2 linked regions of the Homo sapiens genome follow. The protein of the gene in region 2 purifies or fractionates together with the protein of the main gene of each other region. This does not show direct contact. Each region holds a gene or a part of one and is shown on either strand. Other genes may lie near its edges.

Region 1 (3,828 bases), on a different chromosome or scaffold from region 2:
AATTAAATGATATGTGTTCAAAGTTTCAAAGTTCACCTTTGATATTTTCCATCTCCTTAAAATGAGAATGTGTAATTAGCCATTTCTAGAAATGGTGACTATAGTTAATAATAATATATTACATATTTGAAAATTGCTAAGAAAATAGATATTAAGTGTTCTTACCACAAAATGATAAGTATATGAGGTAATGGACATGTTAATAGCTGTATTAAGCTACTTCACAATGTATACATAGTTCAAAGCATGCTGTACACAATATATACAATTTTTATTTGTCAATTAAAAACAAAAAATAAGATCAATGAATAGCCATTTCTTTGTCATAAAACTTTTAAAAATTTTATTTCAATTTTTAGGAAAAATTCTTAAAAATAATGAGACTCTAGTACAACATGGAGTTAAGCCACAGGAAATTGTACAAGTGGAAATCTTTTCTACAAATCCAGATCTGTATCCAGTCAGAAGAATAGATGGATTAACTGATGTCTCTCAAATCATAACTGTCACTGTCCAAACTGGTTCGTTATTTGATGTCTTTTAGATAAAGTATTTTTGAGTCCCTTCTTGGTTGAGCTTTCATTGAATCTTGGTGTTATCTCTCAGGACTTGATCAATACCAGCAGGTACCTGTTGAGATTGTCAAATCTGACTTTCACAAACCATTTCTTGGTGGATTCAGACATAAAGTAACAGGAGTAGAGTATCACAATGCTGGAACACAAACTGTACCTAAAAGGATTCCCGAAAGACTCAGTATATTTTGTAGGGATACGCAGGTAATGTTTTTATTTGTCTCTTTAGGTTTTTGAAGGTATAGACTCAATAATTGTACTGTATGACTCTCTCAAATTTCTCTTAAGTAATTATATGGCAATTAATAAAAGAAAATGAACTCACATATGTAGAAAAACTCCCTTATGTATATATATAGGGGATACTGATTTAAATTTTTAATGTTTTCTTTTAGACAGTTTTTCAGAAAAAAAATCTCCAACAAACTACAAATACAACATCCACACAGATGACTAACATTGGTGTATATGTATCAAATATGACTGATAAACTGGTAACACCAGGAAAGTATTTTTCAGCAGCAGAATACCATGCTCAAAGACTAAAGGCGGTGAGATAACTTTTATTGTGGATGAATACTAAAAATTTGATATATAAGCCAGTTGTTCCGAGTGTGTCTCTTTCTCCAAGCCACATTTGCTTGAGAAAGAATGCTCATGAGTATGGGTCATATTTCACTGCTAACAAAGCAGTCTTTATCTCCAGTATTCCCCCATGTAAAGAACCAGCATCCTAAATGCTCCTAATCCTTCCTTTTCTCTTAGGGAAACCCAGCTTCTTTGTGTATTGCCTTTGGCCATTATTAGCCTTCTCAACACTGCTGTCCCTTGGCCTTAAATCTTGTCACAGTAGAATCACCAAGGGAACTTTCGAGACTAATTGAAACCAAATAGGACAGTAGTCGATTTTCTCTGATATTAACATAGCCGCTCCAACTCTGTTTTATTTTTTTGCATAGTCTCTCATTTTTCATTCTTTTACTTTCAACCTATTTGATCTACCTCCTACCATCAATTTACTGTGAGTAAAAATGACCTGAAAGCAGTGACTTTAAGAGATTTTGCTTTTCAAATGACAAGAAATCTGGAGCTAGGCTATTCAGCCCAAGACCTTTAGAGACAAACTTGTAGTGAAAAAAAGTTAAGTCTGTTGACTTAATTGCCCTGAAGGAGACAGTATACCAGGGGAACCATGGGGTTAACTTTATAGCAGGCTTTATCAGTGCCAGTTATTCCAGCCTGATAATTTTTTACTTTTTCAGTCCAAACTAAATTTCACCAAATAAAGGAATATATGGAGTTATTATATAATTTGGGGAAGAGTGAAGTTTGAGTGGGATTTAGGGGAAGCAGTATTCTGATTGTCTCAATGCAAAACAAGGGTGTGTATAAATGGGCCAACATTAGGTCTGGACTGTGAAGTAGACCAAGGTCACGTTCCTTTGGAAACAAAGTTAAAAGAGATGGGAAATGTTTCTTAGAAGTTCTCTGAAGTTCAGCACCTTGGTTGTATAATTGAGGCTGCTTCTCTCTGTCAAAGTGACGTGCAACCTCTAGGCAAGAGTGGAATGTTTGTTTCTTACTGATCTAATTTCAGACAGGAAAGTTTCTGATAGTTTCTGAATTTAGAGAACGAAGTTTCTCAGTGAGTAAGAAGATAGCAGTCACTAAAAGAAGGGGATTGTTGAAATATTTTATAGTTGTAGAGTGTCCTTGGGAGAAATACTGTTTTTGTTAATTTTGTAGCTGACCTGATTAGTGCCTGTTATTCCAGCCTGACAATTTTTTACTTTCTCAGTCTTAATTAATTTTTACTTTCTTACTATACTGGGCATGGGTGGTGACTCTATGATGTCATCAGAATCATAAACTCCTTTCATCTTTCTACTCCATTAAGCTCATCATGAGCTTGTTACTGTATGAAGATAAAATGGTTGACTAACTTTCATCATGCCTGCATTCCATGTGAGAAGAAGGGAAAAGTCAAGGCAGCATGTTCCATGAATGCCACCTTCAAGGATTTCCCCGGAAAGCCCCACCCAGTGACTTCTACTTGCATCCCATTGGCTTGAACTATGTCATGTGACTATCCCTACTGCAAAAGTGTGTGATAAATGAATTTTTAAAGTAGCATATCATTGCTCCTCAATGAGATTGCAATCTTAGTAAGAGAAAGTAGGGCAAAATGGATATTAAGTAAGGAAATGGAAATTTCTGTCATTTTCCAAACTCCAAAAAATGATATTGAAAGAATAAAAGTATAAATATACAAGGACAAAGAATACATGAGAAGAGTAAATGTGAGTTGTGTTTTTTTTTTGAAGTTTTAAAGCAGATGGAAAAGTGTTAACTTGACTTAGTAGAGCAGAGGAAGTGAAAATCTAAATGCTGCCAACGAGGATGGCATCAAGAACCAAATAGATTTGCCCCATAGAGTCTTGAAAGGTGAATTGGAGGTTCTGTGGGAGGTGGAAGTGAGGTGTGACCTGTTAACAGAGGAATTTGTTAAAAGCCGGTATAGGGAGTACATTTCCGTTTAATAAGTTCTTTTAACCTTGATTCCTTTCTACTTGGGTCATGTTTATTTTATTTTTTTAATAGGTTTTGAGTTCACTGCTTACTATTTTAAATCTTTCTTGTTTCAAGAAAGATGATATTTTGCGTGACTACTGATATTTTTGGACTCATTCTTGCTATTTCATTTTGTTTTATTTACTAATTATTCTTATTTGTTTATGCTTTTTTTAGCCTTTTCTTTTTGTTGGTTTGAATAAATGTTTCTTTTTTTGTTCTTTCATAGTTCAGAAATAAGTATTTTGTTTTTTCTAGTGGTTATGTTACAGAAAAGTGGTCCCGATCCAGACCCCAAGAGAGGGTTCTTGGATCTCCCACAAGAACTAATTCAGGGCAAGTCCATAGAATAAAGTAAAAGCAAGTTTATTAAGAAAGTAAAGGAACAAAAGAATGGCTACTCCACAGACAGAGCAGACCTGAGGGTTGCCTGGTGCTGGTTGCCCATTTTTATGGTTATTTCTTGATGATATGCTAAACAAGGGGTGGATTATTCATGCCTCCCCTTTTTAGACCATATAGGGTAACTTCCTGATATTGCCATGGCATTTGTAAACTGTCTTGGCGCTGGTGGGAGTGTAGCAGTGAGGATGACCAGAGGTCGCTCTTGTCGCCATGTTGGTTTTGGTGGGATTTAGCTGGCTTCTTTACTGCAACCTGTTTTATTAGCAAGGTCTTTATG
Region 2 (3,828 bases):
TATTAGTATGGTTAAGATTGATAATTTGATGTACCCATATACCTTGCTGAAAAAAACCCCGAATGTCTACTAGCTCAGATTTATAAAACTGCTCAGTGAGTTCTCATATGTCGTAAAGAACTTTTTGTTTTTTAAAAGAAATCCTGGCCAGGCTCATGCCTATAATCCCAGCACTTTGGGAGGCTGAGGTGGGAGGATCACTTGAGCCCAGGAGTTCAAGACCAGCCTGGGAAACGTGGCAAAACCCCATCTCTACATTAAAAAGTTTGCTGGGTATGGTGATGTGCACCTGTAGTCCTGACTACTTGGGAGGCTGAGGTGGGAGGATCACTTGAGTCCAGGAGATTGAGGCTGCAATGAGCCATGATGACACCACTGCACCCCACCTCCACCTCCACCCCGTGACAGAGCGAGACCCTGTCTAAAAAAAAAAAAAAGAAAGAAAAAAAAAAGAAATCCTAAAAATTACATTTTTAGTGCAGTTAAACTGTGATTTCAGTTTCTTTTCTTATGCATGTATGTGTGAACTGTATAAAGCAAGCTTCCATTATCTTTGCATTATTGCTGTACGTCGGCTTTTCTTTTTCCTAATTGGGGAAATATTTATTGTTTTGATATATTGTGTCCTATATAAGTGAGTTTGGGTTCTAATGAATATCACAGAGTGAAAATTACTAGCTTGTATCATTAGAGTTTGAAGATATTTTTGCCTCTTATGTTAATCTTTAAGAAACCAACTTCAGTTCACTAATATTTGTATTATTATTATAGTATATCTACTTCTGATTTGGTTAATAGTACAAATGTAAACCTCAAATCAGGTAGGGAGGAAGGATACTGAATTAATACTGCTGGACAGTTCAGATTTTACCATCCCCACCCCTTCCCTTTTAACAAGCATTTATAAATATTTACAGTGAACTTTTTAGAGAAGTTAATTTTTCTGAAACAAATGAGCATATCTCATCTTCAGATTTTTTACTTGGATTCCTTACTAGCTGCTTTTGTGAGAAACATGAAATTTATTCTTACAACTATGTTTTGGTGGGAGCCTCTAATAAATATCACCCTAGTGGGTTTGTTGGGAAAAAGTTCTGGCTAGGACCATGGCTTTTAAGGTAATTTTTTACAGTAGTTAAAAACATTAGCTTGCATTTCACTTACTGGTTTCATTAAAACATGTTTCATATCATTTGATATTATAATATTTATATGATTTTTTACAGAATGTACTTAATGATTTCAAAAAATAATTTAAAATGTTAAATTTGTTGTTAACTATAACATATAGAAACTGCATAAAACCAATGTACAGCTTGATGAATTGTTACAGGACAAACACCTTGTAAATTTTATCCTGGTTAGGATATAGAACTTTGCCAGGCACCCTGGAAGCTCTCCAGATTCCTCTTAATCACAACTCTCTTTGCTAAGAATAATTCCTATCCTGACTTTTATGGATTTTATTTACTTTTCTTTATAGTTTTGTTGCCCATATGTGCATCCCTAAATACTACAGGGTTTTTTTTTTTTTTATGTCTTTTAAATCTCTATAGATTTCTTGTAAGAAAAGATACAAAGTAAACTAAAATGGATTACATATCTTGGATTACTTTAGTTTACTCACATGTGTACTGGGAAACTGAAGTACTCATATTTTCCCCAGTTTAACTGTGCAGATTTTTTCTTGTTAATGTTAAGTATTTTTTCATCTTAGACATTTTTTCTTTTAATGATACTGATCTAATTTCCAGAAATGGACAGAAATAGACAACTTTTAAGACTATTCAAACAAATATAGAGTAATAATTATCCTTCATAATTTTGTTCAATTTTTCCCCCAACAAAATGAGTTAAAAACACATTGTTTTGTCTGAAGAGCTACATCTCTTACTACCAACTTTATTTTTAGAACCTGAGGTATAACTTCTGTGTTCTCTTGATTGTTTTAACAGCTTTAATTACATTGAAATGTAACATTTGGTTTATTTTCCTTATTTGATGGCTTTGTCTAAATAACTTGATCATTATTCAGTTATTTTAAAATTGACATTGCTCTTCCTTTTGGATGTTTTATGAATGCTGAGAAGAGACCTAATTACTGTTTATAAGGACTGACTCTTCTGTTGTTAAATTTTGAATTTGTAGGAAGTTGCTTGCTCATTTGTTATTAATGTATTCTACTTTCTCTTTGAAGAATGTCAAGCTGTCAGCTGAGGTGGAGCCATTTATTCCCCAGAAGAAGAGTCCTGATACATTTATGATCCCTATGGCTCTCCCAAATGATAATGGAAGTGTTTCTGGTGTGGAACCAACTCCAATTCCCAGCTACCTGATTACTTGTTACCCATTTGTGCAGGAAAACCAGTCCAATAGGTAATTTGTTTATTTTTATTTTCTTTTTTGTGGGGGTGGCTATAAAAGCTGGCAAAGTGCACTTAATATTTTTCCTTTGCAACTTTTAGACTTTAACCATTTCTCTATTAAGAGGAGTAAATAAAATGATACTGAAATTTGGAAATTGTTGATATGGATTAGTTTCTCATTTTTTCTAAGAGAAAATTGAATTCTTAGGCTATGTCTCCTTCAGTAAGTCATTGAAATTTATTTGAAGTAAGTCAGCTCAAAGGGAGAAATAAAATATTCAGAGGTGAACAAAAACCTTTTTTTTTTTTTTTTTTTTTTTTTTTTTTTGAGATTGAACATCTAATCTCATAGTTGCCAAGATAGTCTCTGGTGTAAAAGAAAATACCAAGCAATAGTCCTTAACTTTGAAGCTGTCATGGTTAGCATATATTAGTATTTCTAGACTCAGATTTTAGTTTAAATTTATGTCTGTGCTATAGTTACAGGATGATTTAGCAAAATTGCCCGCAATTAGGTCATGTGTAACCTAGTGGTTAGGGTGTTACTTATGATAGTCGTGATAGCCATTCTAACCCTGCTTATACTGTCTGAGTGATTAGCACTTCATTGGTATAGTTTATTTTATGGCTGTATAAAAGTACTTTCAGCCTTTTTCAAGTTATGTCACACAGAAAATTTCGTTTTTCTAGGACTGTAAATGGATGAGGCAGCTGTTAACTGGCTATAGGCTCTGTCATTCCTGAGGGCTGAGTCAATCAATATTTCCACCCATCTATAAACCACTGTTGCACATTAGTGTGCCAGTGCACATTCTTTGAGAAATTGTGGATGTATGGTATATAAGGCCATTCAACTACTCAAATATTAAATGTTCAAGTTAATATTCTGAGGCTGTTAATCAAGAGTCTTGAGGGTTAGACAAATAGTAGAAACTAAGGAATCATTTTCAATTGAAGTTAGCATGATATTAAATATCTTTGCCTATATTGGATAATGTGCAAACTGATTCATGAAACTAAATTTAATAATACTATTTTTCTATTTGAAAAAATGGCCAAGTATACAGTATGATAAACTTAATTGATTTTCTTGGTTTACCAAATAATCTTTGTGAATTTATGAGTAAACAAGCCAACAGATTATTTAAAAAATATTTTTAAGAATATGGCCGTGAACATTTTACTATTTTGCTTTGTCATGGGAGTAATGAGGAAAAGCCCTATGCTTCAACTCCCTAGTCCTTAGGACCCCATATTGATTTGGTGAGGGGGCTGCTGGGACAGGAAGAATTTTGCTAGTGTTTTATATGAACTGCATTAGAAGAAGCTCCACTCCTGAAGATGTCAGTGGACAGATTTGCCTCTTCTCTTCTTTCCCTTGGACCCAGAGCCTGCTTCTATTGCCAGGAGGGGAGCCAGGAAAAGAGCTGGACTTGGCCAAGTGATTAGGGGAGTATGAGAG

What was found.
Region 1: the proteins of SECISBP2L (region 2) and IQUB purify together in Homo sapiens (co-immunoprecipitation; one large-scale study listed by IntAct). This does not show direct contact.

The regions. Positions count from the first base shown.
Region 1 is NC_000007.14:123,499,895-123,503,722, reverse strand, and holds part of IQUB (IQ motif and ubiquitin-like domain-containing protein), read left to right. Parts: intron 1-359; coding exon 360-521; intron 522-606; coding exon 607-779; intron 780-970; coding exon 971-1,126; intron 1,127-3,828. UniProt on the Homo sapiens protein: Adapter protein that anchors the radial spoke 1 (RS1) complex to the A microtubule of outer doublet microtubules in axonemes. The triple radial spokes (RS1, RS2 and RS3) are required to modulate beating of the sperm flagellum.
Region 2 is NC_000015.10:49,036,139-49,039,966, reverse strand, and holds part of SECISBP2L (selenocysteine insertion sequence-binding protein 2-like), read left to right. Parts: intron 1-2,197; coding exon 2,198-2,376; intron 2,377-3,828. UniProt on the Homo sapiens protein: Binds SECIS (Sec insertion sequence) elements present on selenocysteine (Sec) protein mRNAs, but does not promote Sec incorporation into selenoproteins in vitro.